Regions from separate parts of the Homo sapiens genome. Here regions 1, 2 and 4 are each linked to region 3. Evidence: fine-mapped expression QTL. A gene starts in region 3. Each other region holds a variant in brackets. All regions are shown on one strand. Distances are from middle to middle.

Region 1 (7,904 bases), 110 kb before region 3:
CAGATGATGTCCCTGCTCTTAAATGGCCACTTGGACCATCCTCACTGCTAATTCTCCATCCCCGGCTGCCTCTGGATGGACTGCTGCACCGTCCCCCATACTGCGTGGAGGCTGGGGCTGGATGCAGGGACACCGACACCCCTAAGAGTCCGGCATGGGCCTTCTCCTCCCAAACACCTTAGAGAAACTCACCTTTTCAGCATTGGAACGGATGCAGCGGATAAAGAAGGGCTCCGCCTTCCCCAGTGCCTCCAAGAGCTTGTTAAGGGATGTCTGTTAAGGGAAAGAGAAAGCATTTGGGTTGAATCAGGGACCCTGACAGCCGCTGTTCTGTGGGAGCAGACCTGGGACACTCTAGCATCAGTGTGGGGTGGATGGGGTCTGCACAGATGTGGGTCCCTGGTGGTGGGACACAGGAGGTTCCAGCTGGACGTTCTGACCCAAGCCTGCGCTATCCCTGGAAACCCTCGAGGGAGTTATGTGGTCCCCATGGTCCCAGGGCCACCAGTGCTTGTTTTTGCCTCAGGTGGAAGGCTGGGGCTGGGGAGGACCAGACAAACGCTTTCTGGAGATTTGAAACATGTGTCAACCTCAGAAGGGACCACGGATGTAGTGTTTTTTTTGTTTTGTTTTGTTTTTTTTTTTTTGAGACGCAGTCTTGCTCTTGTTGCCCAAGCTGGAGTGCAATGGCGTGATCTTGGCTCACTACAGCCTCCGCCTCCCAGGTTCAAGCAATTCTCCTGCCTCAGCCTCCCAAGGAGCTGAGATTACAGGTGCCCACCATGCCCAGCTAATTTTTGTATCTTTTTTTTTTTTTTTTGAGATGGAGTCTTGCTCTGTCGCCCAGGCTGGAGTGCAGTGGCGCCATCTCGGCTCACTGCAAGCTCCGCCTCCCGGGTTCATGCCATTCTCTTGCCTCAGCCTCCCGAGTAGCTGGGACTACAGGCACCCGCCACTACGCCCGGCTAATTTTTGTATTTTTAGTAGAGGTGGGGTTTCACCGTGTTAGCAAGGATGGTCTCAATCTCCTGACCTCGTGATCCGCCCGCCTCGGCCTCCCAAAGTGCTGGGATTACAGGCTTGAGCCACCGCGCCCGGCCAATTTTTGTATTTTTACTAGAGACGGGCTGTGCTCGGTGTCGGGTGAAGCTACACAAGCCTGAGGCTGAGCTGACCGCCACCTTCTGCCTCTCCTGCTCCACCTACCTGGAACTGGGCGCTGATGCTTGGTGGCTTTTTCTTCTTGTGCAGGTGCAGTAGGGACTTGGTGGTGCGGTCGTGCAGAGTCATGCTGATGATGAGTTTCAGGGACTTGGAGTCCAGTAGGTTCTAGGACAGACACATGGGGTCCGGCCTGCCCTCCCACAGCCCACACGGGCACGGGGAGGCATCACAGGTGTCCCCGAAGCCAGGGCAGAACAGCGTCCCCGCAGCGAGTGCCCGGGCAGCAGCTCTTAGGTTTGGTCTCAGGACCACACTATTGATGTGGGCCCAGTGGAATGAGGTGGGTTTGCACCTTGCACACAGCGCTGGTTCCGGGAGGGCTGATGACAGCCTCTTTCACAGCCTGAGTGGCTGCCCCATTTCCTCTTCCTCTGGGTTAGAGAGGAAGCCAGTGCTACTGAACCTGGCCGTCCCTCTCCTCTGCATAGCTCCTACAGTTTACATTACTTGAGTCAAGAAGGGCCAGGTCCTTTCTGTGCCATCCGCATGAGCTCATCGGACAGGCCACCATCATGTGTCAGCCAGTTCTATCAGCTGACAAGAGGAATTAGCCCTCTCCCATCTGCTAACTAGACTGCAAGGCTATTCTTACTCTTCTTGCAAATTTCTTAAATTGCTGCACTTGTATGTGGAAACGAGACAGAGCGCTTGGGAGGTTCTCTGTCCTGTCTGGAAGCAGCCCAGTAGCCAGGGACTGAAGATGGGGGTGTTAAACGGAAGGGTCCCATTACGTTGGGGCAGGATGAGCTCTGTGGTGCTATGAACCCACTAGAGCTCCCCATGGGACCAGGCTGAGGCCAGACTTCAGCTATGCTTACGCCCCTAGCTTCCTCCCTCACCCCTTCTCTCTGCCTTCTCACGTAAGCCCTCTTCCATAAGCCGCTGTGTGTGCAAATACCCCATCTCAGACCCTGCTTCTGGGAAACCCATAAAGAGACAGCTCTAAATCATCTCAACACGAGAACATTTTTTTTTTCTTGGAGGGAGGGGGAGATAGTGGGAAGGAGGAGGAAATGAAGTTGCAGAAGTGAAAGCTCTCAAGACGGGCAGAGAAGCAAGATATCTTGGAACGTGTCGCGCGGGGTGTGTTTTTTTTTTTACCTTTGGAATGATCTGCTTTTGTTTGATACCTTTACTTTTCCTGTCAAAATATTAAAAATGGTTTTGTGAACAAAAGGAACACAGTGTCGGGATTTGGGTTAGTTCAGCAAGCCACGCCTGGCGGGTTAGACTGAGAGACACAGAGAGAGGGGAGAGAGTGAGAAGGCGCAAGTGCAACAAGGCCACCGCCACCTCTCCACGCTGCACACCGTGGCGTGCCTCAGCCACTGTCTGTGGACACCAGTTTCCCTGGGTTGGCGGCACCCGGACTCTGCTGGTGGCTGCCCCAAAGCTGAGTAAAGTGTTTAGTCTGGGGGCCATTCGGATGTCTGAGAAGTAGGAGGGGCTGGCTAGGAATCTACAGGGTGGGACGTGCATCCAGCGGGGCTTGCTATGGAGGAACTGACATATCCCCCAGATCACAGCAGGATGCCGAGTGGGGCGGAGGGAGCCTGAGCAGTCCTGGTGGTGACCAGGTGACCAGGCTGTCTTTGCCATGTGCTGGTAGATGCCAAGCAGGCCCACAGAGGCCCTTCTGGAACCCTCTGCTGGCAGGGCAGGGACTTGCCCTGCAAAATAACCAAAATGGGGCCTGGGTGGGAGCTCCTTTCAGGATCATGCTGGTGGGAAAGAAGAAAACCAAAGCTGGCCAGGCGCAGTGGCTCACGCCTGTAATCCCAGCACTTTGGGAGGCTGAGGTGAGCGGATCACCTGAGGTCAGGAGTTCAAGGCCAGCCTGGCCAACATGGTGAAACCCTGTCTCTACTAAAAATACAAAAATTAGCCAGGTGTGGTGGCGGGTGCCTGTAATCCCAGCTACTCAAGAGACTGAGGCAGGAGAACTGCTTCAACCCAGGAGGCGGAGGTTGCAGTGAGCCGAGATCGTGCCACTGCACTCCAACCTGGGTGACAGAGAGAGACTCTGTCTCAAAACCCCCCCCAAAACCCAAAGCTGCTCTTTTGGCCGAGGTAAGGAAGGGGATAGCTCCTGTGTTCTCAGACACCTTATGGAATCTTGCAGACCAAGGGGGAAAATAAATAAATAAGTAAATATATTTATTTATTCAAAAGGCCTGGTGCCTTTTGAAGACCGGCTAAGGAGATGGTAACTTGTAGATCTGTGAGATGCCTAGCCATCCGTGGTTGCATTCAGTTTCACCTGAATCCCTGTGGGGTAAAATAAGGCACAACAAGGACAAAAGTTTGAGGCCGAGGTGGGCGGATCATTTGAGGTCAGGAGTTCAAGACCAGCCTGGCCAACATGGTGAAACCCCATCTCTACTAAAAACAGAAAAAAATTAGTCGGGTGTGGTGGTGCACACCTGTAATCCCAGCTACTTGGGAGGCTGAGGCAGGAGAATCACTTGAACCCGGGAGGTGGAGGTTGCAGTGAGCCAAGATTGAGCCACTGCACTCCAGCCTGGCGACAGAGTGAGACTCTGCCTCAAAAAAAAAAGGAACAGAAGTTT[T/G]AAACAGGCTCCCACTGGGTGCGGTGGCTCATGCCTGTAATCCCAGTGCTTTGAGAGGCTGAGGCAGGAAGATCGCTTGAGCCCAGGAGTTTGAGACCAGCCTGACAGCCTGGGCTATAACATAGCAAGATTCCACCTCTACAAACAATAAAATTAGACAGGTGTGGTAATGCGCACCTGTAGTTCCAGCTACTCTGGAGGTTGAGGCAGGAGGATTGCTTGAGCCCAGAAGGTCGAACCTGCCGTGAGCGGTGATCGTTTCACTGCTGCACTGTAGCCTGGGCAACAGAATGAAACCCCCATCTCTTAAAAAAGAAAAAAAAAAAAAAGGGCGGTGAATCATGCCTGTAATCCCAGCACTTTGGGAGGCCAAGACAGACGGATCACCTGAGGTCAAGAGTTCAAGACTAGCCTGGCCAACATGGTGAAACCCCATCTCTACTAAAAATACAAAAAATTAGCTGGAAGTAGTGGCAGGTGTTAGCAATCCCAGCTACTCAGGAGGCTGAGGTGGGAGAATCGCTTGAACCCGGGAGGCAGAGGTTGCAGTGAGCCGAGATCATACCATTGCACTCCAGCCTGGGCAACAAGAGTGAAACTCCGTCTCAAAAAAAGAACGAAAGAACGAAATAAAGAACGAACGAAAGAAAGAAAGAAAGAAAGAAACTGGCTCTCATTGGCTCCCATGCAGGTGCAAGCTTTGCTCTCAGCCAGCCCACACCCCAATGGCCACTAAAAGGCGAGATGTGGTGACCGCAGGTGGATGTCTTGTCAGCTGAGGCTGCTGCCTGCCTGGTGCTGGGTCAGCATAATGGAAGCATGAGAGTCATTACCCCATTTGCAGGCTGAAAGCAGAGACTACTCAATCCCACAGTGTGCTAACAGTCGGGATCCCAAACCGGTTTATGCACCTTCTGGGCTCTCCTGACTGGCTTATGTGGCCACCTGCAGAGATCAGGGCCACCCTCTCTGGGAAATCGCATGCCCTGCTGCAGATGGCTTCTCTGCAAACTCACAGTGGCAAAGGCGGGAGCAAGCTTTGCTCTGCAAGCCAGATAGGCACGGGGAGGAGACGGAGGATGGCACGTTTGCGGGTGGAAAATTAGATGCCTCGAAGAAGGAGTGCTCCTGGGAAGCTGCCCCGTGTGCTGGGAAGCCGGCTGTGCCTGGGCCACAGTGCAGACAGAGGCCAGGGGTGTTATTGATTGGCATTTAGTGATGGCTGGGGGTGGGCCATGAGACAGCACTGTGGTTTTAGTGGCCGATGCAAATTAGGAAGACTGCAGGCCCCGCCGGGGTCGCAGGAGTAGTGGGAGGCGGTTGTCGCACTTGTAAGCAGGGCCTTGGTGGGGGACTCACAGGATGAAGGCGCGGGGTTTCTGGAGCCGACTGAGGGACTGGAGAAGGCTACGGGGGTCCTCGCCCTGCCAGGGCAATCCTTTGATGCTCTTGATCATTTGGTTATGCAAATCGCTGAGGGGAGGGGTGGAGGGGGCGCAGTGACAGAAAGAAGATGGAGTTAGAAGCAGGCCTGCCACCTCGGGGTTCCCAGCGCCATTGGGACCATCCCCAGGCCACTGAAGCCAAAACATGCAGCTGGGGGAAAGACACTGTGCTCAATGCTGCCCCTCTCTCTTTTGCCAGAAATGGGGACTGGGCCAGCCTCCCCAAGCCCTGGAGCGGGGCAGGGCTTTGAGGCAAATTGGACTTGGCAACACAGATCATTGATCCTTTTCAATACATCATTTCCAGCTGGGTGCGGTGGCTCACACCTGTAATCCCAGCACTTTGAGAGGCCGAGGCGGGTGGATCACCTGAGGTCAGGAGTTCGAGACCAGCCTGGCCAACATGGCGAAACTCATCTCTGCTAAAAATACAAAAAGTTAGCTGGGCATGGTGGAGGGCACCTGTAATCCCAGCTACGTGGGAGGCTGAGGCAGAATTGCTTGAACCCGGGAGGCAGAGGTTGCAGTGAGCTGAGATAGTGCCATCCATTGCACTCCAGCCTGGGAGACAGAGCGAGACTCTGTCTCAAAAAAAAAAAAAAAAAAAAAAAAATTATTTCCATCTGGTCATTCCACTTTATTCGATCCTTTTCATTTGGATCACTGAAAAAGTTCTCATATTTAAGAGCCTTTGGGGATATTTATTTATTTATTTATTTATTGAGACGGAGTCTCACTCTGTCGCCCAGGCTGGAGTACAATGGCGCAATCTCAGCTCACTGCAACCTCTGCCTCCTGGGTTCAAGCAATTCTCCTGCCTCAGCCTCCTAAATAGCTAGGATTACAGGCGTGCACCACCATGCCCGGCTAATTTTTGTATTTTTAGTAGAGATGGGGTTTCATCATGTTGGTCAGGGAGGTCTTGAACTCCTGACCTTGTGATCGGCCCACCTCAGCCTTCCAAAGTGCTGGGATTACAGGTGTGAGCCACCGCGCCTGGCTGGGGATATTTATTTAGTTTTAAATTTATTTTTATTTTTATTTTATTTTTTTTTGGAAACAGTGTCTTGCTCTGTTGCCCAGGCTGGAGTGCAGTGGTGCGATCTCAGCTCACTGCAACCTCCACTTTCCAGGTTCAAGCGATTCTCCTGCCTCAGCCTCCTGAGTAGCTGGGATTACAGACATGCATCACCCTGCTCAGCCTATTTATTTTTTAAATTCCATGACAGGCTGGGCGCGGTGGCTCATGCCTGTAATCCCAGCACTTTCGGAGGCTGAGCAGGGCAGATCACCTGAGGTAGGGAGTTCAAGACCAGCCTGGCCAACATGGTGAAACCCCGTCTCTACTAAACACACAAAAATTAGCTGGGCATGGTGGCGCATGCCTGTAGTCCCAGTCACTCCGGAGGCTGAGGCACGACAATCGCTTGAACCTGGGAGGCAGAGGTTGTAGTGAGCCGAGATCGCACCACTGCACTCCAGCCTGGGCAACAGAGTGAGACTCTGTCTAAAAAAAAAAAAAAAAAAAAAAAAATCAGTTGGGGCGACTCAGAAAAAAGACCCTAGGGAGGGTCTCTGTGGGAGGAGCAAATTAGTCTCTCTCCATGATTTTGTGGCCAGATGTCAATCTCCTTGTTGGCTTCATTAAGGCCTTTGGAGGAATTAATTTGAATACAAGAGCCACAGTTTGAACACAGCAGTTCTCAACCGGGGCGGTACCATCCCCATCAGGGGACATCTGCCAATGTCTGCAGACATTTGTGGTTGCCATGACTTGGGGGTGGGGGTGCTCTCCTGGCATCTGGTGGGTGGAGGCCAGGGATGCTGCTCAACACCCTACAGTCTACAGGACGGGTGCCCACCCCAGAGAATGATCTGGCACAGTGCTGAGGTTGAGAAACCCTAGTTTTTTTTTTTTTTTTTTTTTACAGAGTCTTGCTCTGTTGCCCAGGCTGGAGTGCAGTGGTGTGATCTCGGCTCACTGCAAACCCCGCCTCCCAGGTTCAAGTGATTCTCCTGCCTCAGCCTCCCCAGTAGCTAGGATTACAGGTGCACACCACGCCTGGCTAATTTTTGTATTTTTAGTAGACACAGGGTTTCACCATGTTGGCCAGGCTGGTCTTGAATTCCCATCCTCAAGTGACCTGCCCACGTATGCCTCCCCCAAGTGCTGGGATTACAGGGGTGAGCCACTGCGCCCGGCCAGAGAAACCCTAGTTTAAGGGGATAATTACCCTCAAAGCACTCAACCTTACTCGCTTCATTTTGTTTGATGGCTGTGGGCTTAGGCTTGAGCACGCACGCGGAGGTGCAAACTTTGGCACTGATACCGTGTGTGAATTAGAATGCCTTAGAGATGAAAACTGGATGCTTTCAAACTAAATATTAGTGAGGAATGTCTAAATGACAAATGTTTTTGACAGAACTCAGAACTTCTAGAAATGAGGATCTGGTTTTTCCTGCTTTTTTTTTTTTTTTGAATTCCTTATTCCAGACATTTTATTTATTTTTTCTTGTAGGCGTGTGGTCTTGCTATGTTGCCCAGGCTGGTTTCAAACTCCTGGCCTCAAGTGATCCTCCGGCTTTGGCCTCCCAAAGCGCTGGGATTGCAGGTGCGTGCTACCGCATCCTGCTGGCAGTCGTTCAAAGCACATGTTTTAGCTCT
Region 2 (7,904 bases), 35 kb before region 3:
AACATTCTACGAAGCGGTGGATGTACTGGGGTAGACAAAGGAAAAAAAATTCCTATAAAGGGCCAGGTAGTAAATATTTTCAGCTTTGTGGGCCATGCAGTGTCTCGGGTGCAATTACTCGGCTCTGCACTCATGGTGCCAAAGATGCCAGGGATGATATGTAAATGCATGGGCATGGTTATGCACCAATAAAACTTTATTTGTAGAGATAGGCACTGGCAGATTTAACTCATGGGCTGTAGTTTGCCAACCCCTGGTAGATACCAAAGGAAATGAAACCTTGCTGGCGTGGTGGCACGTGGCTGTAGTCCCAGCTAATTTGGAGGCTGAGGCAGGAGGCTCACTTGAGCCTAGGAGGTTGAGGCTGCAGTGAACTATGACTGGACCACTGCACCTCAGCTTGGGCGACAGGGCTAGACCCTGTCTCTAAAAAAAATTTTTTTTAAAGTTAAGAAAAATGAAAAGACACTAAAAAGACGAAGTGTTTTATTAAAAAAAAAAAAAAAAAAGGGGAAAAGCAACTGGGGGAACCAAAAGAGATAATGAAACGTGTCATGGTTCTGCCAAAGTGGGGAATCTCTGGCCGCTGATCCTGTTTCCCGGCAGTGGTTCTTGACTTGTTTCCTGCTGGGGAGATGCTTAAAGGAGCGAGACCTGAGCCACAGCCAGCACCTGGCATAGGTTTCAAGAAGTCACCCCAGGAGGACAGGGAGGACCACAGAATCCAGGGCGCACAAACCAGCACTCTCCTGGATCAGAAAACCGGCAAACCTCTTTGATTACATTCCTTTGCAAAAAACCCCAGCAGGGAGCATGTTACTTCTCAGTGCAGGCGGAAGTCCTAAAATCAGGGACTGCGGTTTTTGGCATGGGGAGCAAGTCTTACAAACAACATTGTAAGACGTCACTCAGTGCACCTGGAAGAGCAGGCTCTTGGAAAGCCAGATCCTCACGCACCTAGGGCCGCTTCATCATCGGTGACACGAGGACATGCCTGATCGTGGGTGAGCAGTGACCGTCCCCTGGGCTCTGGGTGGGCAATGAGTGAGAGGTGAGGAGGCACACCAGTCACCTCCCCCAAGGGACGAGGGAGAACGCCGGACTGAAACTGCTTCCCGCCACGCCCAACAGCCACTCCACAATCGTGCCGAATTTGGTCGGGTTGATGTGTAACTCCAATGGCACAATGTTACCAAGAAAAAAAGAATCTACAAATATTTAGGCAGAGACCATCTGTTACAATGAAATCTATCTTGTCATACAGTTGGCCTAAAACAGCAGTTCTCAACTGGGGGGTGGTTCTGCTCCTCAGGGAACACCTGTCAACATCTGGAGACGTTTCTGGTTGTCGGGACTAGGGGCGGGGGTGCTATGGGCAACTAGTGGGCAGGGATCAGGATGCTGCTCAGTCCCCCATGATGCACAGGATGGCCTGGCCATAACGGAATGATCCAGCCCACATATCAACAGGGCAGGGGTTGGGAACTTGGGTTGGACCAGGAAGCCTGGCCTCTGTCCCCAAGGGTTTCTGACTGTGAGGTCTAAAACTGACCCTATATGATGGCTTATTCTGCTTTCTCGTCGCCTCTGGGGTTTGCCCTGCCCCGTCTCCTGCCTGCCCTGCATTCGGGCCCCAGCTCCTATCTCCTCCTCTGGGCTGCTCTGCAGACCCAGGGCCCCCAAAAACTGCTTCCCCCTACCTTTGTGCAAACATCCCGGGGAGGCCACACAGGAGAGGCAGCCAGAGATTGATTCTATCTTCGCTTCCTGTGGTGCCCGGGGTGCCCAGCTCACCCCCCTCAGGGACCTTCAGTAGCTTGCGGTCAGGGCCACATTGTACCTCCTCCTTCTGTCCTTGCACCACCCTGTCTTCCACACACGCCTGCCTGTGTGGATGGGTGACCTAGATGTTTGTGTGGATAACCATCCCGCTGTTTAGCCTTTCGGATGGCCTGGGCTAGCCTGAGTCTTGACCGCTCGCAGGGCGAGCAGGGGGGAAACTCCTGAGAGCCCTAATTCTGCCTCCTCTTTCCCCACCACAGCAGTGCGCCTACCCGAGAGGAGGACGGGCACCCAATGACCCTGGCCCTGCTTCCCCAACCCGGCCCTGGACACGCTGGCCTTCCAATCTCCCTTTGAAGTGCACCAGGCTGCTGCCCCGGACCCTCCTGAGCCCAAGCTTGCTGCCCACCCTGCTGCCCACTGACGCCCCACCTTCCTTCTCCCTCAGCCCAGCAAAGTGACAAGTGGTCTCAGAGACCCTCAGCCTCAAATACCTCTGCATTCATGTAACATAGACACAACTCAAGCCAGTGGGGGCTCCTGGACCCTTTGACAGACAGACGGGTGCTGACTGCAGGTATTGCTCTTCCTCAAACAAATGCTGGCTTCCCTTTGCTCCTCGTGACATGGGTGACTTCTGCCTTCTGAGGCCTTGGCCCCGTCCTGACCCTGAGCCTCCTCCGGTCTGTGGCCTATGCCCTGAATCTCATCCCTGAAATGCCCCCCAATGAGAGGGGAGCCACACGCCCCCTCTCAACACTTACCTCTCCTGACAAACTCACCTCCCTGTATGGCCAACAGCCAAGGGCTGGGTGAGTGCCTGGCTGGGAGGTGCCCCAGCTTGCTGTCTGTCCCTGACCCCTCTCTGACTGGGTCATGCGACAGGATGGCCTCTGAGGCCTGATGAGCCCTGGGGCTGCGGGATTCTTTGTGTGGCTGGTGCACAATTCTCCCTTGGATGCCCCATCAGCTGCTTGAACGAAGCACCCCAAACCAAATTCACCAGGACTGGCCTCCGGGCAGTTCCCCTGCAGCCATCTCTGACCCCCTCTCCTCCTCCCTTGGGACCTGTCCGTCCTCAGCTATCAGCCTCAGATCTGGCACATCCCCGCGGCTGGGGTTGCTCCCAGGACTCCCTCTCTGTCGCACTTGGGAAGCCACGTGCAAACGCTCCTGCCCGAGTCCAGGGCCCCCGCCAGCCGGCCCGTCCGCCCTGCTCCCTGAAGCCAGCCTCCCTCTGGCCACTGGCTTCTCAGCAGGCTGGGAAGAACGTGCAGATGGATGTCCCTGCTGTACCTGGACGTCCCTGCTATACCTGGGCACGCCTGCCCCCTTCTTGCTTCCTCCCACCCCGGCTCCTGGTCCCACCTGGTGTCCCTCGGTGGCTCCAGCCATTAGCACGCCCGAAGCAGCCTGCTGGAGAGGACTGCTCTCCTCCTTCCCAGGGCTCATGACAGTCTCCAGGGGATCCTCTGTGTGAGTGTCAATCCCCCCACTCCCCAACATTGTTCTTGTGGGGGACACTGATGGGGGAGGTTGGCCTGGCTGGGGCAGGGGTCCAGGAAAACCCCAACCACATACCAGCCATACAAAGGAATGAAATGCTGATACAACTGGTGGGCAGAGAAACAAATTATGGTCCATCCTCCATCCATACCGTGGAATATGATGCAGCCATGAAAAGGAAGGAAGCACTGATCCATGCTACGACGTGTATGAATCTCAAGAACATGATACCAAGTGAGAGAAGCCAGACACAAAAGGCCACAGAGTGTGAGAGATTCCATTGATCTGAAATGTCCAGAACAGGCAGATCCATAGAGACAGGAAGCAGGTTAGTGGCTGCCAGGGCCTGGGAGAGGGAAGTGGGGAGTGAA[T/C]GCTGATGGGGACGGGGTCTCCTTTCAGGGGGATGGAAATGTTCTGGAACTGCATAGAGGCGACGGTTGCATACCACTGCGAGTGTACTAAATGCCACTGAATTGCACACTTTTGCCTGAGGCCAGGAGTTGGAGACCAGCCTTGGTGACATAACAAAACCCTGTCTCTACAAAAAATAAAAAAATTAGCCAGGGGTGGTGGTGTGCACCTGTATTCTCAGCTGCTTGAGAGGCTGAGGTGGGAGGATCACTTGAGGCCAGGAATTTGAGGCTGCAGATATAATTTAATTTACAGATTTATAAACTGCAGATATAATTTATACATTTATAAAATGCAGATACAATTTAATCTATATATTTATAAACTGTAGATATAAATATAAGGTATCTATTTATAAATAAGTAAATAGGTAAATTATATCTCCATAAGCTCTTAAACAGGAACCTCAACTTCAGAGGCATGAGAGTTGACACACACCTGGTTCCAGAAACTTCTATCTCTGCCACCCTTGCTGAGCAGCTCGTGTGCCTCAGTTTCCTCACATGTCAGGTGGGGGTGGTCAGTCTGCCCACATCAGGATGTGGTGAGGACGTATGAGATGACGCCCCCAATGCTGGGTGGAGGCTGGCATCCAACTGTGTCTTGCCCGACAGACTCAGGGGGAAAGGACGTGGCCCAGGCAGGTGTCCTTGAGGGCAGAGGTCGAAGTGGATAATGGCACTGTGGTCTAGGTGACCTACCCCAGTGCTGACTGTGGGTGGGGGAACAGAGCTAGTGGCCTGGCTGATGGCAGAGGGGCTGGGGGAGTTGGGGGAAACATGAGACTGGGTTTGTAGGGCCCCTAAGGAGGAGCTCAGGACCCGGTCCAGGTGGGTACGAGTCCTAGGTTCCTTTGCCCCAAGAGGGGGGTCTGGGGCAGTGGCACGTTCAGGACCCTTCCTCAGTCCCTCACTGGAATGTCCTGGGCATCGGCACAACTTCGGGTGAGCTTGGCTCCACCAGCTGGGGGCGTCCCTCTGCGCCCTGCAGCCCATCACTGTCACCGTGTCCCACTGTGGGCCGGGCCACAGGGGCTCCATGGAGTCCAGGGACCCTTGGGACAACAGCCTGACAAGCAAGGATCCTTATTTTATTTCTGCTTTCAGAATGAAAACCCCATGCACGCTGCCAGCTGCCAGCTGCACTTGCTACAGTTCAGGACAGATGAAGGGAACCCCAGCCTTTGGCCCCCTGGACTCAGCCTGCTCTCAGAAGGGCACCGAGGCGAGTGCCTGGTGGATCTGAGGCTGTGGGCAAAGGGAGAGGAGCGTGTTCTGGGTGTGCTTTGCGGCGAGACCCCATGGCCGATGCTGTAAGGTGCTCTATCCACAGCCCCTGGGCTGTCGACGGGCGCCTGCACTGGGAGGCTAGAGGCCATGTGGAAGATGGGGAGACTCATGGCTTCTGCAGCCCCTAGACTTGGTGAAAGGTGATGGCAACAGTTAACTGCAGTGGCGGGCAGATCAGCTGATTGGAACCGGCTTTCCACAGTGCTCCCTTCCTGTTTTTTGGTCAGCATTACACAGCGAGGCTGCAACCCTCGCGGGGGGCGGGGGTCAGGGGGTGCATCCAGCGACACTCAAACCTCAAAACAGCTCAACTTCTCCTTTCGGGGAGCTGAGAAAAAATCCCCAATCGATGCAGCGAGTTGTGCTGATCTCCGGCTTTCTGCAGCCCGGGCGAGAGAGGGGAGAGCAGAGAGGCAGCCTGAACGGGGGGCTGGGGCTCAGGCCGGGTTCAAACCCCGGGTTAGGCTTTGGCTCTCTGCGGTGTGGCCTGGGGAATCTACCTGCAGTGGGTTGACTTGTGGCTTCCCAAAAAAGACATGTCTAAGTCCTTACCCCCAGAACCTGTGACTGTGGCTTTATCTGGAAACGGGGTCTTGGCAGATGTCATGAAGGTAAGTATTTTGAGATGAGGTGATCCCATGAGAGAAAGGCAAGGGAGATTGGACACACACAGGGGAGAAGACCAGGTGACGACGGAGGGAGAGGGCAGAGTGATGCGGCCACAAGCCCAGAGCTCCAAGGATGGCTGAAGCCACCAGAACCCGGGAGAGAGGCCTGGGACAGATTCTCCCTCAGAGCCTCCAGAGGGACCCAGCCCTGCCCACACCTTGATTTTCAACTTCTGGCCTCCAGAACTGTGAGAGAATCAACCCCTGCTGTTTGAGGGCTCCCAGCCCGTAATACTTTGTTATAGACACCTCAGGAAACTCACACATCCACGTGTCTCTCTGGGGCTCAGTTTCCTCATCTTTAAAATGGGCAGAGCTGCCGTGAGGGATTAGAGATGATGGAGGAAAATCACGAAGCCCAAACCCTGATACCCAGTGGGCCTGAGGTCTTATTCCTCTTATTAGAAAATGATGGCCGGGCGCAGTGGCTCATGCTTGTAATCCCAGCACTTTGGGAGGCTGAGGTGGGCGGACCACGAGGTCAGGAGATCGAGACCATTCTGGCTAACACGGTGAAACCCCATCTCTACTAAAAATACAAAAAATTAGCTGGGTGTGGTGGTGAGCACCTGTAGTCCCAGCTACTCAGGAGGCTGAGGCAGGAGAATGGCACGAACCCGGGAGGCAGAACTTGCAGTGAGCCGAGATCGCGCCACTGCACTCCAGCCCGGAGACAGAGAGAAACTCTGTTTCAAAATAAATAAATAAATAAATAAATAAATAAATAAATAAATAAATAAATAAAATTAAAAAAAAGATTCTTGGGGCCAGGCATGGTGGCTCACGCCTATAATCCCAGCACTTTGGGAGGCTGAGGAGGGCAGATTACTTGAGGTCAGGAGTTTGAGACCAGCCTGGCCACTATGGTGAAACCCGTCTCTACTAAAAATACAAACATTAGCCGGGCACGGTGGTGGGCGCCTGTAGTCCCAGCTACTCGGGAGGGCTGAGGCAGGAGAATCAAACCCAGGAGGCAGAGGTTCCAGTGAGCCGAGATCGTGCCACTGCACTCCAGCCTGGGCGATAGAGCAAGACTCTATCTCAAAAAAAGAAAAAAAGAAAATGACTCTTAAGTTAGCACAGAACAGAAAGAACTCACAGATAATTTCTAAAAGCTCAGTGGCTGCAATGAACAGTGATTGGGTCTTATGGGAAGAACTCAAAGACAGCTGTTCTATTCCCAGGGGGTGATTTGTCCCCAGGGGACAACGGGAAGCTATTTTGTTAATACCTCTCTAATCAATGAAATGTCTGGGGACACTTCTGGGTGTCACACCTGCGGGGTGGGGAGTGCTCCTGGCATCTGGTGGGTGGAGGCCAGGGATGCTGCTCAATGTCCTTCAATGCACAGGATGACTCCCTCCCCAGAGAACGATCCGGCCCTGAATGTCAGCAGAGCCAGGTTGAGAAATCCAGCTCTCAGTGAAGACAATCACATCCCTTTGCAAACAGTCGCCCCAGGAAGCACGTTTATTGCCATGACGTGGATTTGGCTCAAGCCTGTTTTGGAAGCCGGCGTGGGCACCACCCTCGAGCGGCTTAGAACCGCTGGAGAAAACTGGCCTCGCCAGCCCCCGCTGCTGAGGCCCCAAGCAGGTTGGCCTGGCAGGACCGGGGGTCTGACTCACAGAGGGTGACTAATGGCTGTTGAAGGCATACTGGAGACTGTGCAGGCGTGGAGGCTGGAGGGAGCTTTGCTGGCATCCGGGGAGGAACTACCGGTCCCCAGGACAATCGCGGATCTGGGGCAGCCCTCAAGGACCCAGGCACAAGATGTCACCAAGTGGGACTTGCCAGGGGCCAGGTAGGACTTGAAGCAGACCAGGTGGGGCTGTATGGGGGATGCTGTGGGCTGACTTGAGCCCCCCGCCCCCAAAATTATATCCACATCCTCACCCCCAGAAACTGTGTATGTGACCTTATTTGGAAATAGGGTCTTTGCAAATGCAATTAGGTAGGATGAGGTCATGCCGGGGTAGGATGGGCCCTACATCCCATGAGTGGTGTCCTTGTTATAAGAAAGCCACGTGAAGACATGGACACACAGGAAGAACGCCCCTGACGACAGAGGCAGAGACTGATGTGACGTGGCCACAGGCCAGGGCACATCTGCAGCCACCAGAGAAGCTGAAGAGGCCTGAAGCATCCTCCCCCAGAGCCGGGAGGGAGTGCGGCCCCGTGGACACCTTGATTTCAGACTTCTGGCCTCCAGGACCATGAGAGCCTTAATCCCTGTTGTTGGAGACTC
Region 3 (7,665 bases):
CTGTCTGTCTCAGCTTCTTAAAGTGCTGGGACCACAGGCATTCACCATCATGTCTAGCTAATTTTAGTATTTTTTTGTAGAGATGGGATCTTGCTATGTTGTCCAGGCTGGTCTTAAACTCCTGGCCTCAAGTGATCCTCCTGCCTCAGCCTCCCAAAGGGCTGAGATTACAGGCGTGTGCCACCAAGCCTCGCCTAGAGACAGGGTCTTTATGGGGATGATTCAGTTAAAATGATGTCATTAGGGTGGGCCCCCTTCCATATGACTGCTGTCCTCATAAGAGGAAATTTGGACACAGAGACAGGCACAGAGGGAGGACGATGTGAAGACCCAGGGGAAGACGGCTATGTATGAGCCAACAGAGAGAGGCGTGGAACAGATTCTCACAGCCCTCCGAAGGCACGAACCCTGCCAACACCTTGATCTTGAATGTGATCTTAAACGTCTGGCCTCTAGAACTGCAAGCCAATATACTTCTGTCGTTCTGGCCACCCAGCGTGCGGTTCTGTTACAGCAGCCCTAGCAAACTCAGGCACCCAGCAACAACAGTCATGAAACACCCCTAGCGGGGCTCCTTCTCTTGCACATACAGCCCTGTGCAGCAGGGCAGAGATGGGTTTTAAACAAGTGAGTCAGACAAGGATATCTTATTCATCACTCCGACGAACCCATGGGCTGAACCCTTGAATCACTACTTTATTTATCATCGGGCTCGGGCTCAGAAAGTCTCGCTGAGGAAATGAGTAGAACCCAAACTCGTCAGCTGCATTTCTGAAACATGCCTAATCTCTGAGGCTCTTTCCCAGCCACGATAGAAATTGAAAGGGAACGGGGCTCTGGGCTGCGGCGGTGGGCTGGTGTGGAGACAGAGCCCTTTGTTCTGCCACTCCAGGGACCACGAGGGCAGAAGAGAAGGGCTTGTCTTGCTTTGCCGAGAGGCCGCCTGGGGCCGTCTGAATGGCCGGCCGAGCAGGGGCAGCCTGGCACAGCTGGGCTGGGGATGCCGGGCACACAAAGGGCTGGTGGGTGGGGTGTGGGGGCAGCACCCAGAAGGGACCGTCAGTCCCGTGGCCCCAGAGCGTCTCCTCCAATCAAGGTAAAGCAGCAAAGTCACGGTCAAGGAGGGGGCCAAGCAGGGAAGGGGACAGCAAGATGGACCAAGAACAAAAATTCAGCAGTATGTGCTTGGGAACGGGCGGGCGAAAGGGCCCATGGAAGAGATAATGCAGCTTACAAAAGCGACGTTTATCCGGGGCAACCTCCAAAGTAGCTCTTGGGAGAGAATCTAATACCTCTAATCTCAGAAGAAAAGCAACAGATCATTCTAAGACGAGGACAGTTCCTCCAGAAATCCAGGTCAGTCACAAGACAAAGAAAAGACAAGGGCACCCGCTGTCCACCCTCGGGCACGTTGCCTACCCTCCCACAGTCCGTTCCTAACGGTTCCTCCTTTTTATCAAGACCCGCTCCCTCCTGATTAAGAACTGACTGGATGGCAGGATTCAGTTCCTGGTCTCTGCCCCTGTTCCCACTCTTAGTGGCAGTTCCTCAGGGGCTCCACAAACACCAAGGACCCACCAAGGCAATGATGGGCCCTAGAGGGGAACCAGGTTTTACTAATGAGCATCACATTTCACCTGGCGGGGGAGGTGATTCTGCCCCCAGGGGACACGTGGCCATGGCTGGAGTCATTTTCAGTTGTTACCCCTTGGAGGGGATGGAATACTACTGGCATCTCATGGGTGACAGCCAGGGACACTATTCCACATTCTACAGTGCACAGCCCCAACTGTCAATGGTGATGCGGGTGAGAAACGGCCCTGGAGATTTGGGTTTCCCCAGTTAAAGGTTACTAAGGATCCTGCATGTTTCTAGAAAGCTCAAGGAACCATCTCTGAAGTCATCACCTGCCTGGGCCTGTTTCTGTATCAGGAAGATAAGAACAAGGACCCTCGCACTGCCGGTTGGCAGAATGAGAGAGCTGGGATGCCCTGTACAGGCCGGGCTTCAAAGGTATCTGCTTGTGCAATCCCTTCCACCCGGAGTGGTTTAACACGTGGTATCTTTCCAGGTTTGACCTGGGGCCAGCCACTACTTCCGAGGAAACTTGCTGGAATCCCCCTTGTCCTAAAGCTTGCATTGGTTGTCCCTAATTCTCCCCCCATAATATCTTGTGGCCCCTCTGTCACCGTACTGATGACCTGATCTGAATTCCATTCTTTTTTTTAATTATTATTATTTTTGAGGGCATCTTGCTCTGTCACCCAGACTGGAGTGCAATGGCGCAATCTTGGCTGGCTGCAAACTCCGCCTCCTGGGTTCAAGCAATTCTCCTGTCTCAGCCTCCAGAGTAGCTGGGACTACAGGCGCACATCACCACGCCGGGCTAATTTTTGTATTTTTAGTGGAGACAGGGTTTCTCCATATTGGTCAGGCTGGTCTTGAACTCCTGACCTTGTGATCCACCCACCTTGGCCTCCCAAAGGGATTACAGGCCTGAGCCACCGCGGCCCAGCTTGAACTCCATTCTTTCTGAAGAGGAAGTGCAAAGTTGTCGGGGGCGGGCATTAGCGTGTCCGTCCTCTGGGTCATAAGGATTCACCTCTGTCCCCAGGAATCTACCAAGTGTCTGGCACAATCAACCCTTGCCTAACTGAAATCTAGGCCCACCCAAGACACACCATTTGGAAGAGATGAGGAATGGGAAGCAGCAAGTTAACAAGTCCATGTGGGGAGAGAATAACGAATCCTACAGCCAAACAGAAAGGGGAGATTCCCACGTCTCTACCTGCTCCACTGAGTCACCAGACTGGACCCGAGGGACGGTACTGCCTCGGGATTTCCAGAAATTTGCAGTTTCCAAAGCTTTGGGAATAGGTGCAATGTGCAAAAGCACCTTCAACACCGCAATTTTCTATTTGGACGATGAAGAAGCGGTTGAAAAAAAATCATTTTTGGATACAAACTGTCGAATGGAAAACGGAATAAAAGTAGGATCATCGCAGCCAGGAATGGAGAGTGGGGGTGCTGTGAGGAGTTCAAGGCCGGGAGCTGGGGGACATGGACTGGAGACAAGACGGTGATGAGAAGAGTTGGGTTTCAAGGTTGAAAAACGCTGATGGAGGTCAATTCATTCATTTTGCAGGTGAGAGGTCAGAAACAGGCACAGAGACTTGACCAAAGCCAGGATCTCCAACACAGTGCTCCCCCCACAAGACCCTGCTTGGCCATTCTCTAGCGGCAGGGAAGAGGCGATTGCAGGGCTGCGGGATCAGAAGATCCCGGTCCTGTTCTGTAGGCCAGTGCAAGCCTACAGTTCAATGTTTGCAGGAGGCATGACTGTGGGCTGTCACTGCATGTCCTGGGGCAAGCCAGGCCAAAGCCACCTTTCCTAAAGGCCAGGATATTCTGGAAGTGAAGGGGGTGCTTATCTTTCTGTGGCCCTCTTTATATTCCAGCTATCCGGGTTCATCTCCTGAATGAGCTATAAACTAAACATAAGCTGGGGTTCCCCAGCCCTTCTGGCAGATCCCAGATAAAGATCCCTACAGTTGGGAAAGGGGAGAAATGAATGCCAATCAAAAGCACCCTGCACAAAGTCCCTGCCAGGGCCACAAGAGCCAGGCCTGTCAGATGTGAATAACTTTCCTGTAGCCCAGGTCACCTCCGGCTGCTCCTGGACACCTTAAGATTCTGAAGACTCCAACATCAAAAAACAAACCGAGTTGGGACTCTCTGGCTGGAAAGTGTCCCCACGGGCTCCCACCTCAGACAAAGAGGCAGAGAAGCCATCCCTTAAAGACCCCTGGCCTCCAGGGTGCCCAGGAAAGAAAGGAGGGCTCGTGGCTGTCGTGCCTCTCCAGGGCTGAGCTCAGAGCAACCGGGGGACAGATTTCCTGTATGTCGTTTTACCCATTTAAGTCCAAGGATGCAGCTCTGCGGAGGTGGCGACAGTCCTGTACATGAGGGTGCATGCACACTCCCTCCTGAAACACAGTTCCGGCCCCACAACCGGCCCTGAGGTCCCTTCCTTGGATCCAGGGAATCCCAGAATCCTGCTAGTCCTGTCTTAAGGGGAGGGTGGTGAAGTTTCCAAGACGAGGACACTGGCACAGAGGGTGTTGGGACTCGTCCCAGGTCACCCAGCTGTTAAGTGTGAAGTCAGGAGGGACACGAATCAAGAGGGGAGGGTGGGGGGACGGAATCTCCAGGGGCTGCATCTCAACATCTATCTGCACGGGGCCACTCTAACCCCTTCCTTCTCTTCCCTCCTCTCCGGGCCCTCCCTCCCTAAGCCTACCCTCAGTTCTTACCGTGACTTCTACTCCGTTTACTTCCCTTCCAGCTCCCATTTCCCCGCTTCCCAATAGCCGGCTGCCGCATCAGTTAGTTCAGAACCCCCCGCATTTACTGAGCGCCCACTGGGGGCCAGGCGCCGCCCTCTTCTCAGACACCCTTCCTTCAATCGCGCGGGCAGACGTCCCCAGATCGGTCTCGCACCCCTTCCCCTCAACCGCACCCCGGCTGTCCCGCCCCTGGCCTTGCCCACTCCCCCAGCCTGGGCCTCTCGTTCCCGCCTCCGTGCCTCCCCACAACGCCGTTTCCTGCGACCCCCCAATTACCACTTAAGCCACGTCCTCTTCAGAGAAGCTGCTCAAAGCCACAAGACTCACCCCCCCCACGCCCTCGAACTCCCTCACCAGCTCCATCCCCATCCACTTTCTCCTTCACCGTCTCGCTTCCACCTCATCCCCAGCAATCTCTCCAAGACCCCCAGGCTCGTTCCCGCCCCCTCGACCCCTGCCGTCGCGTCCCCCATCAGCCCTCAGCTCCGTCCCTCTTCTGCGCAGCCCCCAAAGGCAGGCTTCGAGCTCGAGTCGCCAACCCGAGGCTGCCTGGTACTCACCTGGCCTCGGCCGCCGCGCGCCGCCGGTCCCGGGCCGGGTCCCCGGCCGGACGACCGCCTGCCAGCCCGCCGCTGCTCGAGCCGCTCCGCCCCGCCGCGCCCGCCGCTCCCCCGCGCGCTCCCGCTTCCGGGTTCCGGAGAGGCGGGGACGGGGGCGTGACGCCAGCGCTCCTAGGGGCGGGGCATCGCGAAAAGCCCCGCCCCTACTGTCCGACAGATCAGGTCCCACCCACCGCCCCTACCCACTACCGCCGATGGTGGGCGAGACCAAGTGCGAGGGGAGGACAGGCGAAGCGCGCGTCTGGGGCCGCGCTCTCCACACTTAGCCGGCGCTGCCTCACGCCTCGCAGCCACCCCTCCTGCGTCTCCACAAATGGTCCGACCCGCAAGCAAGGGGGCGGGTCCGGCTTTGAAAAGCCGGCGGGTCGGGCCTTGAGGTGGAAGGCGGGAAAATGGCGGATTCCTCGGGGCGAGGCGCTGGGTGAGTTGGGGCTTCCGCAGGTCTGGATTTGTAGACGCCATAGGGCTGGAGAGGATGGGCAGCGGAGGTGGGGAGTTAGGACCCTCGGGGTGAGTTCGGGTTCGACCCCGCCAGGAACTGCGCGGGCCCCTGAAGACCCCGATGGCGTGCTGCCTCTGCGCATGCTCCGGAGCGCTGACACCCGACCGGCCCTGAGTTCCGCGTCCTCGGCTGGGACGCTGGGCGACCTCCGGCAAGCGGCCTGACCGCCCAGTGCCTCGCTTTCCTCCGCTACGAAATGGGGCCGATGACGCAGCTCAACCTCGTAGGCGTCGCGTGAGGCTGAAACGCGCTTAGATCGGCGCCTGGGTCTTTACTGTGATGTCGCTCTTGGAATTATCGTTATGCAGTGAACAAGTGTTGGGCGACCAAAGTGTCCCCTTTAATCCTCCCACGCGCTTTATTCTGTGCTCCCAGTTTACTGAGGAGATGATGGAGACCCAGGGAGGGGAAGTGACTTGCCTAGGGTAACACACCATGAACAAGAAAGAAGTTGAATACTGACCGAGAGCTAGGCATGAATGATCATGAGGCTATATTTGTCTAGTTTTGTTAATTCTGCCAGTGTTGATTGTGCCAGGTGCAAACTGAAGTGAAATTGGCCAGCAAGAGGAATCACTCCACCGCCCCTTGCCGTAACCGATAGATTGACAGTAGCACCTCCCAGGTACAGGTGCAGTAGCTGAGGCTCGCACAGGTTGTAGGGACCCCCCTCAGGTCGCAGCAGGTTCACCCAGGAGCCCATTCGGTTTGAGGCCACAGCCCTAGCACAGTCCCCAGAGGGAGTCTGTGCTCTTGTCTCTTTCTGGCTGTGAGACTGCCCCGGGGGTGACCTATGTAAAACCTGTGCGTCTTTGTTTTGCAGCGACGAAAAAGCAGGTGTGAACAGTTAGGAAGCTGTCGGGTTAGGAGGAGCCTACGGGCGAGCGCAGCTGCTGGCACCTGGCGAACATTTGCTAAGTTGCCTCTCCCCACGGTGGCCTGGAAGTGTCCCCAACATTGTCTGGGTCTCACTTTGGGGTCCTGGGAGCCTGCTTCAGAGGAGGTGGCCGCAGGGACCAGTGGAGCCGCCTTTGGTGATGGGAGCAGGAGTTACAGTGCCCTGGCCTTGGCCCTGCCCCTCCACTTGCCCATCCACTTGCCCCTCCTGTGTTGCTGGTGTCTGTTCTTGGATCCCTTCTTTTCTCACCAGCTCAGGCTGAAACCCTGAAACCCCTAGTCATCCCAGATTCTCCCTCTCCTGCACCCCCACAGCTGATGAGTCAGCGATTCCTATCTCAGGGTCCCTTCTTTCCTATTACATCAGGCTTCATTCTATTTTTATTTTTATTTTTATTTTTATTTATTTATTTATTGAGACGGAGTCTCACTGTCACCCTGGCTGGAGTGCAATGGCGTGATCTTGGCTCACTGCAACCTGTGCCTCCCGGGTTCAAGCAGTTCTCCTGTGTCAGTCTCCTGAGTAGGAGGGACTACAGGCGCATGCCACCACCCCAGCTCATTTTTGTATTTTTAGTAGAGATGGGGTTTCACCATGTTAGCCAGGATGGTCTCGATCTCCTGACCTCGTGATCCGCCAGCCTCAGCCTCCCAAAGTGAGGTACCTGCTGGGACCACTCCTCGTACCTGCCTGTCAAGATGTTGTTCTTCCCTTTCTGGGAAGGAGCTCTGTGTTTTGTTACCACTGTGTCTCTACTGGAATATAGTAGGTGCATCAATGTCTGGTGAATGAATGAACCCAGGGATAATTTGAGATCTGCTGTGATCTCTTCCACAGAGCTCTCATTACCCTCCTCTCTTCTCAGTTTGGGTGTTCACCTATGCCTTCTTGCCCAGGTGACCAGGGCTGGCTGCTCCTTGTGTCCCTTTTCCTGTTGAGGTGGCCCACCCTCACTGAAATTGTCCTCTGGCAGCCCTTGGACTGGGCTGTCTGAGCTTCAACTAGCAGAGGCACCTCGCCGGCTTCCCTGTGCTTCTTGGGTAGTGAGGTGAACAAGACCTCTCTCTCTTCTCTTGCAGGAAGCCTGCAACCGGCCCCACAAATTCTAGCAGTGCCAAGAAGAAGGATAAAAGAGTTCAAGGTAAGCAGTGTCAGGATCTCTTTAAGGAACATGGTTTTCTTCTTTCATTACGTGCTTTTGGAGGAAGAAAAAAACAGGCCAGAGAAGGGGGCCTGTGGCTTTACTTCCTTGTAGTCACACCTGTGGGGATTCTGGGTCTGGCCATCCCAGCCCTGTGG
Region 4 (7,904 bases), 22 kb before region 3:
CCTCTCAAAAACCACTGGGGTTATAGACATGAGCCACCACACCCAGCCTGAAATTTCTTTCTTTTTTTTTTTTTGAGATGGAGTCTCTCTCTGTCATCCAGGCTGGAGTGCAGTGGCATGATCATAGCTCACTGAAGCCTCGAACTCCTGGGCTCAAGTGATCCTCCTGCCTCAGCCTCCTGAGCAGCTGGGACTACAGGTGAGCACTACTATGCCTGCCTGGCTAATTATTTTTTTTTTTTTGTAGAGAAAAGATCTTGCTATGTTGCCCAGGCTGATCTTGAACTCCTGGGCTCAAGCAATCCTCCTCCCTCAGCCTTCCAAAGCATTGGGATTATAGATGTGGGCCACCGAGCTTGGCCTGAAACCCGCATTTTCCAAACAAATGCCCCCTCCCACAGACCGACCAGCTTCCCCGCTCACCTCCAGCACAGGGCCAGCACCCAGGATGGTCCTCTCGACGCCGCTGGCGTAGCCCTTCTGGCTGAGGGCGGTGAGGCAGTGGATGAGGAAGTTGGTGCTCTGGGTCTTGCCGGAGCCGCTCTCACCCGAGATCACGATGCACTGGTTCACGCGCTTCCTGAGCATGGTGTAGTAGGCCACGTCGGCCAGCGCGAAGACGTGTGGCTCCAGCTTGCCCAGCTGCTGGTTCTCATACATCTTCACGTACTTGGGGTTGTAGATGGGCAGGAACTTAAAGGGGTTGATGGCCACCAGGATGCTCCCCGCGTACGTGTAGATCTTTTGTTGCAGGAAGCGGTGCTTGAGGTTCTTCAGGAGGTTGCCCTCGGTTAGCTCGGGGAGGTTACACAGGTCATCAAAGTCCGCCTGCTGCCGTGGCAGGAGGCCACGCTCCACTAGGCGCCGGGTGGCTGTGGCCTGCGCCACCAGCTGCATATGCACGTACTTGATGGTTCCATCTGCGTTGCGCTCCTGCAGCAGGAAGTAGTAGCCATCCTCCTGAGGGTGCTCGTCCTGTGCCCGCCGGGGCCATAGCAGCACCCGGTGCACAGGCGAGTCGTTGGCGTCCAGCACCCATTCCTCGCCTCCCGACTCTTTGACCTCCACCAGCACATAACATTTGGTGCCGTCCAGCCGCAGGCTGGCAATGGCGTCCTTGATGACGTCCGAGGTGGTGCTGTCCTTGGTGGCAGTCACGCGGCACGAGGCCTGGCTCTCGGTGGTGGACAGCTGGGGGTAGATGTGCAGGTGGTAGGCCGCCTGCTCCCGGCGGCCCGAGCTGCCTGCCTCTTTCACACTCATCCTGCCGGCCGCCTGGCTTCAGCATGCCTCCCAGGCTCGGGGCGCGCGTGTCCTGGAGCTAGAAGGGAGGTCAGAGCCAGGCATGGTCAGAATGGTGGGAGGAAGTTTAAGGGGCATGTGGAGTCCCACTCCTGGGCAGATAGCACCTGACCCGATGCTGGAGTTCCCCACCCGACTAGGCTCGCCCAAAAAGCCAGAGGCAACCAGTCACGACATCCCGTGAGGGTCTGTCTGTCCTTCAATGTGACCTCAGGCTCCTGCAGTGGCTCATGCTTATAATCCCAACACTTTAGGAGGCCAAGGTGGGAGGATCGCTTGAGGCCAGGAGTTTGAGACCAGCCTGGGCAACATAGCGAGACCCCGTCTCTACAAAAAATAAAGGCATAGTGGTGCTCGCCTGTGGTCCCAGCTCCTCAGGAGGCTGAGATGGGAGGATCACTTGAACCCAGGAGATCGAGGCTGCAGTGAGCCATGATTATACCAGCTGTGCTCCAGCCTGGGTGAGAGAGAGAGACCCTGTCACTTAAAAAAAAATACAGTGGCTTTTACAAGTGACATCATCAGACAACCCCAAGACCTGACCCTTCCCCTGAGTTTGCTCCATCCCAGCCCCCATCCCACCCCATCCAGAGGCAGCCTCTCAATCCTGAAGCCCAACAAGCCATGACCCTCTTTCTGCTATGCCCTTCCCAGCCCACATCCTTCCTGACCTCATCTCTGAATAAACCTCCCCAGCAGCTCCCCAAGCAGAAGACGACTCGGCCCCACAGGCCTTGGCCACACAGCAGTAACAGCGAGAGGCATGTGGGGATGAGCAAGACTGAACCTGTCCTGAAATTTGGGATTCCCAAAACTCCAGGGTCCTTGAAACCCAACCTAGGAAGATGAAGTCCGGGAGAGCCACGAAAAATGCACTCGGGAATGGCCTAGAGTGTGGTTGCTTCTGAAGCCACAACTCCAGACTACTGGGGAGAAGAACATCAGGCAGGCCCAGGCTGGGGGCATCCTGCAGGAATATGGCTGGTGGTCCCAAGACTGCCAAGGTCACGGGCAACAAGGAAAGACTGAGGAGCTAGCTGTCCAAGACCACAGGAGATTCTCAATGCGATAGGACTCCCTGGAAAGGATCCTCTACCAGAGAGAGGGCTTGAATGGAAGAGCTAGTGACACCAGAAGCACACCAGGAAGGTGGTAAGTAGCAGTCTGCCAATACCAATTTCTTTTCTTTTTCTTTTTTTGTTTTTGAGATAAGAGTCTCGTGCTGTCGCCCAGGCTAGAGTGCAGTGGTGTGATCTCGGCTCACTGCAACCTCTGCTGCCTGGGTTCAAGCAATTCTTCTGCCTCAGCCTCCTGAGTAGCTGGGACTATAGGCATGCGCCACCACACCCGGCTAATTTTTGTATTTTTTTAAGTAGAGATGGGGTTTTGCCATGTTGGCCAGGCTGGTCTCAAACTCCTGACCTCAGGTGATGTGCCAACCTCGACTTCCCTAAGTGCTGGGATTAGAGGGGTGAGCCACCACGCCTGGCCTACAAGTGCAGGTTTCTTATACACATATATCGTGTAGTGGTGAAGTCTGGGCTTTTTTTTTTTTGAGATGGAGTTTCGCTCTTTGTTGCCCAGGCTCTAGTGCAGTGGCATGATGTCGGCTCACTGCAACCTCCACCTCCTGGGTTCAAGCGATTCTCCTGTCTCAGCCTCCCAAGTAGCTGGGATTACAGGCACCCCGCCACCACGCCCGGCTAATTTTTTTTGTATTTTTAGCATAGACAGGGTTTCACTATGTTGGCCAGGCTGGTCTCGAACTCCTGACCTCAGGTGATCCATCCTCCTCGGCCTCCCAAAGTGCTGGGATTACAGACATGAGCTACCGCACCCGGCCTTTTTTTTTTTTTTTTTTTTAAGACAGTCTCGCTTTTTCACCCAGGCCGGACTGCAGTGGCGCTATCTTGGCTCACTGCAAGCTCCGCCTCCCGGGTTCACGCCATTCTCCTGCCTCAGCCTCTCGAGTAGCTGAGACAACAGGCGCCCGCCACCGCGCCTGGCTAATTTTTTTTTGTATTTTTAGTAGAGATGGAGTTTCACCATGTTAGCCAGGATGGTCTCTATCTCCTGACCTCGTGATCCACCCGCTTCGGGCTTCCAAAGTGCTCTCATTATGTTGGCTAGGTGGCCTTGAACTCCTAAGCTCAAACGATCCTCCCGCCTTGGCCTCCCAAAGTGCTAGGATTACAGGAGTGAGCCACTGCGCCAGGCCAATCTGGGCTTTTGGGATACACATTGCCTGAATAGTGAACATCGTACCCAACGGGAAATTTGTTCACCCTCACCCTCCTCCCCCCATCACCTTCTGCAGTCCCCAATAACTATTCTGCTCTGTTATGTCCACGTATATAGATTGTTTAGCTCCCCAAAATTCACCCTCTTCATTTTTTTTTTTTTCTTGAGATGGAGTCTCACTCTATCACCATGCTGGAGTCCAGTGGCGGATCTCGGCTCACTGCAACCTCTGCCTCCCGGGTTCAAGTGATTCTCCTGCCTCAGCCTCCCGAGTAGCTGGGACTACAGGCGCCCACCACCATGCCCAACTAATTTTTGTATTTTTAGTAGAGA[C/T]GGGGTTTCACCATGTTGGCCAGGATGGTCTCAATCTCTTGACCTTGTGATCCACCCACTTCGGCTTCCCAAAGTGCTGGGATTACAGGTGTGAGCCACTGCACCTAGCCCTTTTTTTTTTTTTTCCTAAGAGAGAGGGTCGCCCAGTTTCTTCTTCTTTTTTTTTTTTTTGTCAGGGTCTTGCTCTACTTCCCAGGCTGGGGTGCATTGGCATGATCACGGCTCACTGCAGACTTGATCTCCCTGGGCTCATGTGATCCTCTCACCTCTGCCTCACAAGTAGCTGGGACTATAGGTGCACACCACGATGCATGCTGGCTAATGTTTCTGTATTTTCTGTAGAGATGGGGGCCTCACTATATTGCCCAGGTTGTTGTCAAACTCCTGGGCTCAAATGATCCACCTGCCTAGGCCCCCTAGAGTGCTGAGATTATAGGGATGAGTGACTGTGCCCGGCCAAGTTTATTCCTAAAAAGTGCATTTGCTTCTGAAGGTTGCAAGAAAAAGAAATGCTGGTGCCAGCCCACCTAGGGGCTTGGATCAAGAGCCATAAATGCGGCATGAGTCAACCAAGAATGGCTGAGGGTGTGAAGATGAGGCCCAAAGCCAGGCAGGAGAGACTGGTATGCAAACAGACGTGAGTGTAGACGTGAATCCAGCGCAGCAGTTAAAAGACACACAGCAGGAGTGATTATCCTAAAGGACAAGAGAAGACATTAGGGGAGTAGGAATATCTAAGAGGGGTTCTAAGACCAGGCGCGGTCGCTCACGCTTGTAATCCGAGCACTTTGGGAGGCCAAGGCGGGTGGACTGCTTGAGGTCAGGAGTTCAAGACCAGCCTGACCAACATGGTGAAACCCTGTCTGTACTAAAAATACAAAAATTAGCCGGGCACGGTGGTGGGTGCCTGTAATCCCAGCTACTTGGGAGGCTGAGGCAGGAGAATCGCTTGAATCTGGGAGGTGAAGGTTGTAGCGAGCCGCAATCATGCCACTGCATTCTGGCCTGGGCGACAGAGTGAGACTCCATCGTGAAGAAAAAAAAGGTGGGGGGGGGGGGTTCTGAAGGATGAAGAGGAGTTCGTTCACGAGGTGAGTAGAAGAATAAAGGATGGTACAATAGGCCCACCACCTGTTTTTATAAATAAAGTTTTACTGGAAGGCAGCCTTGCCCACACTCCTTTCCTTATTGTCTGTGGCTGCTTTTGCTACAAGAGCAGAGTGAAATAGTTCAGGCACAGACTGTAATATTACAGCCTGGAAAGCCTAAAATATTTACTATCCAGCCCTTCAAAGCAAAGGTTTGCTGACCTCTGCCCTAAAGAGAAGCATGACTCAGCACTGTGACTGAGTGGGGTCAGGGCCACTAGAGGCTCTGAGAATTCCTGCAGAAGTGTTAGAAGGGCTGAGGCTGAAAGAAACGATAACTTATGAGGCCGAGGCAACAGTTCACACAGGGATAGGGAGTGGCGACAGGGAAGAAGGCTGGGGGACACACAAGATTTAACTCTTAAAACTTTCCCCCAGGTTAGTAAGTAACTGTCATGTTTTCTCCCAGGGAAATAGATATATACTGTATAGTTTAATAAATTTTGGATTGTCTTATCCATTTAGCTGTAAAACCTAATTCTTTCCTTGATATGTCAGTGCATTTGTATGTTCCTCCAGGTCATGAGATAAAGCTTTGAGAGCCTGGTTTATTTTTATTTTTATTTTTATTTTTACTATCTAAGATACAGCTTGAGCAACAGGGCGAGATGCTGTTTTTTTTTTTTTAATTTTTTTGAAATGGAGTCTCGCTTTATCACCCAGGCTAGAGCACAGTGCTGTGATCTTGGCTCACTGCAACCTCCGCCTGTTGGGCTGAACCAACTCTACTGCCTCAGCCTCCTGAGTAGCTGGGATTACAGGGGCCCACCACCATGCCCGGCTAATTTTGTGTTTTTAGTAGAGACAGTGTTTCTCTGTTTTAGTAGAGACAGCCATGTTGACTAGGCTGGTCTCGAACTCCTGACTTCAAGTGATCCACCCGCCTCGGCCTCCCAAAGTGCTGGGATTTACAAGCGTGAGCCACCACACCTGGCAGAGACTCTATTTCTTAAAAACAGCAACAACAGGCCGGGCGTGGTGGCTCACGCCTGTAATCCCAGCATTTTGGGAAGCAGAGGCGGGCGGATCACGAGGTCAGATCGAGACCATGGTGAAACCCCATCTCTACTAAAAATACAAAAAATTAGCTGGGCGCAGTGGCGGGCGCCTGTAGTCCCAGCTACTCGGGAGGCTGAGGCAGGAGAATGGCGTGAACCCGGAAGGCGGAGCTTGCAGTGAGCTGAGATCATGCCACTGCACTCCAGCCTGGGCGACAGAGCGAGACTCCGTCTCCAAAAAAAAAAAAAAAACCAACAACAACAACAACAACAACAACAACAACAACAACAACAAACTATCTGAACGAGGCAGCTCATCTGCTTTTTTATTTTTTGAGACAGGGTCTCACTCTGTCACTCAGTCTGGAATGCAGTGGCATGATCTCAGCTCACTGCAGCCTCGACCTCCTGGGCTCAAGTGATCCTCTGACTGTACCACCATGCCCAGCTAATTTTTGTATTTTTTTTTTTGCAGAGAGGGGGTTTTGCCATGTTGCCCAGGCTGGTCTGGAACTCCACCTGCCTTGACCTCCCAAAGTCCTGGGATTACAGGCATGAGCCACTGTGCCTGGCCCTCATCTGCTTTAGAAAACACTTCAGCAGTTTCTTTCAATGTTAAAACACATACCTAGCACGTGACCCTGCAATTCCCCTCTCAGGAGTTACTCAGGAGAAATGAAGCAGATGTCGAGACAGAGACGTGTAACTTCTGAGAGTCCCAAACTGAGAACCCAAATGTCCACCCACCGAATGAACACACTGACCACACCATGGAATATGGTTCAACAATGAGAAGGAACCAACGAGTTCAGGATGGCTGGTTCCTGATGCTCACAGTGATAGGAAACCAATTCAGAATTGTTGGGCTGAGTGAAAGAAGCCTGACAAGGCCAGTGCGGTGGCTTATGCCTGTAATCCCAGCATTTTGGGAGGCCGAGGCGGGCAGATCATGAGGTCAGGAGATCGAGACCATTCCGGCTAACACGGTGAAACCCCTTCTCTACTAAAAATACAAAACCAAAAAAAAATTCGCCAGGCGTGGTGGGGGGGCGCATGTAGTCCCAGCTACTTAGGAGGCTGAGGCGGGAGAATGGTGTGAATCCAGGAGGCGGAGCTTGCACTGAGCCTAGATCGCGCCACTGCACTCCAGCCTGGGTGAAAGAGCGAGACTCCGTCTCAAAAAAAAGAAGAAGCCTGACAAAAGAGATTACATAACTACATACAGACGTAGCAATTCTGCTCCCAGGTATAGACCCAAAAGAATAGAAAGCAGCGACTCAATTCCTTGTACACCAATGTCCACTGCAGCTCTATTCACAATAGCCGAAAGGTGGAAACAACCCCATGTCCATCGGCAGATGAATGCATACACAAAACGTGGTCCATCCACACAACGGAGTATGATTCAGCCATAAAAAGGAAGGAACCACTGCTCCGTGCTACAACATGGATGAACCCCAAAAACATGAAGCTGAGAGAAGCCAGACGCAAAAAAGCCACATGGTGTATGATTCCATTGATATGAAATGTCCAGAACAGGCAAATCCATAGAGACAGGAAGCAGATTGGTGGTTGCCAGGGACTCCGGGAGGGGGAATAGGGAGTGACTGCTCATGGGGACCGCGTTTCCTTTTAAGGGGATGAAAATGTTCTGGAATCAGATAGAGCTGGTCGTTGCACAACACGGTGAATGCACTGACTAGCACACTTAATTTTTTTTTCTTTTTTGAGACACAGTCTTGCACTCCATTGCAGTGCTGCGACCCTGGCTCACTGTAACCTTCACGTCCTGGGTTCAAGCGATTCTCCTGCCTCAGCCTCCCTTCCAATCTCAGGGGATTACAGGCATCCGCCACCACACCGAGCTAATTTTTCTATTTTT

Evidence for each region.
Region 1: its variant is fine-mapped to the expression of MYO9B in whole blood (TOPMed, PIP 0.98).
Region 2: its variant is fine-mapped to the expression of MYO9B in skeletal muscle (GTEx, PIP 0.98). The same link has a PIP of 0.9 or more in tibial nerve.
Region 4: its variant is fine-mapped to the expression of MYO9B in whole blood (INTERVAL, PIP 0.93).

What each region holds. Positions count from the first base shown.
Region 1 is chr19:17,178,290-17,186,193 of GRCh38, reverse strand. It overlaps MYO9B (myosin IXB), which reads right to left. Exons shown (of 40, transcript NM_004145.4): 15 at 5,154-5,267; 16 at 2,326-2,365; 17 at 1,207-1,329; 18 at 193-273. Among named protein-coding and RNA genes, the nearest start is that of USE1, 33 kb to the left of the region's middle. RefSeq lists enhancers at 1,679-1,888, 4,437-5,028, 5,029-5,621 and a silencer at 4,640-4,934. The variant T/G (reference allele first, on the strand shown) is at 3,795.
Region 2 is chr19:17,107,530-17,115,433 of GRCh38, reverse strand. The region is part of intron 2 of MYO9B (myosin IXB); the gene reads right to left. Among named protein-coding and RNA genes, the nearest start is that of SNORA118, 19 kb to the right of the region's middle. RefSeq lists enhancers at 4,528-5,029, 4,993-5,102, 7,135-7,184. The variant T/C (reference allele first, on the strand shown) is at 3,660.
Region 3 is chr19:17,073,116-17,080,780 of GRCh38, reverse strand. It overlaps MYO9B (myosin IXB), which reads right to left and starts at 5,004. Exons shown (of 40, transcript NM_004145.4): 1 at 4,907-5,004. It overlaps HAUS8 (HAUS augmin like complex subunit 8), which reads left to right and starts at 5,329. Exons shown (of 11, transcript NM_033417.2): 1 at 5,329-5,387; 2 at 7,446-7,507. The coding sequence starts at 5,359. RefSeq lists enhancers at 485-1,022, 5,387-5,586 and silencers at 1,035-1,134, 4,568-4,862, 4,857-5,206.
Region 4 is chr19:17,095,077-17,102,980 of GRCh38, reverse strand. MYO9B (myosin IXB) reads right to left here. Exons shown (of 40, transcript NM_004145.4): 2 at 424-1,321. The coding sequence starts at 1,263. Among named protein-coding and RNA genes, the nearest start is that of SNORA118, 6.8 kb to the right of the region's middle. The variant C/T (reference allele first, on the strand shown) is at 3,877.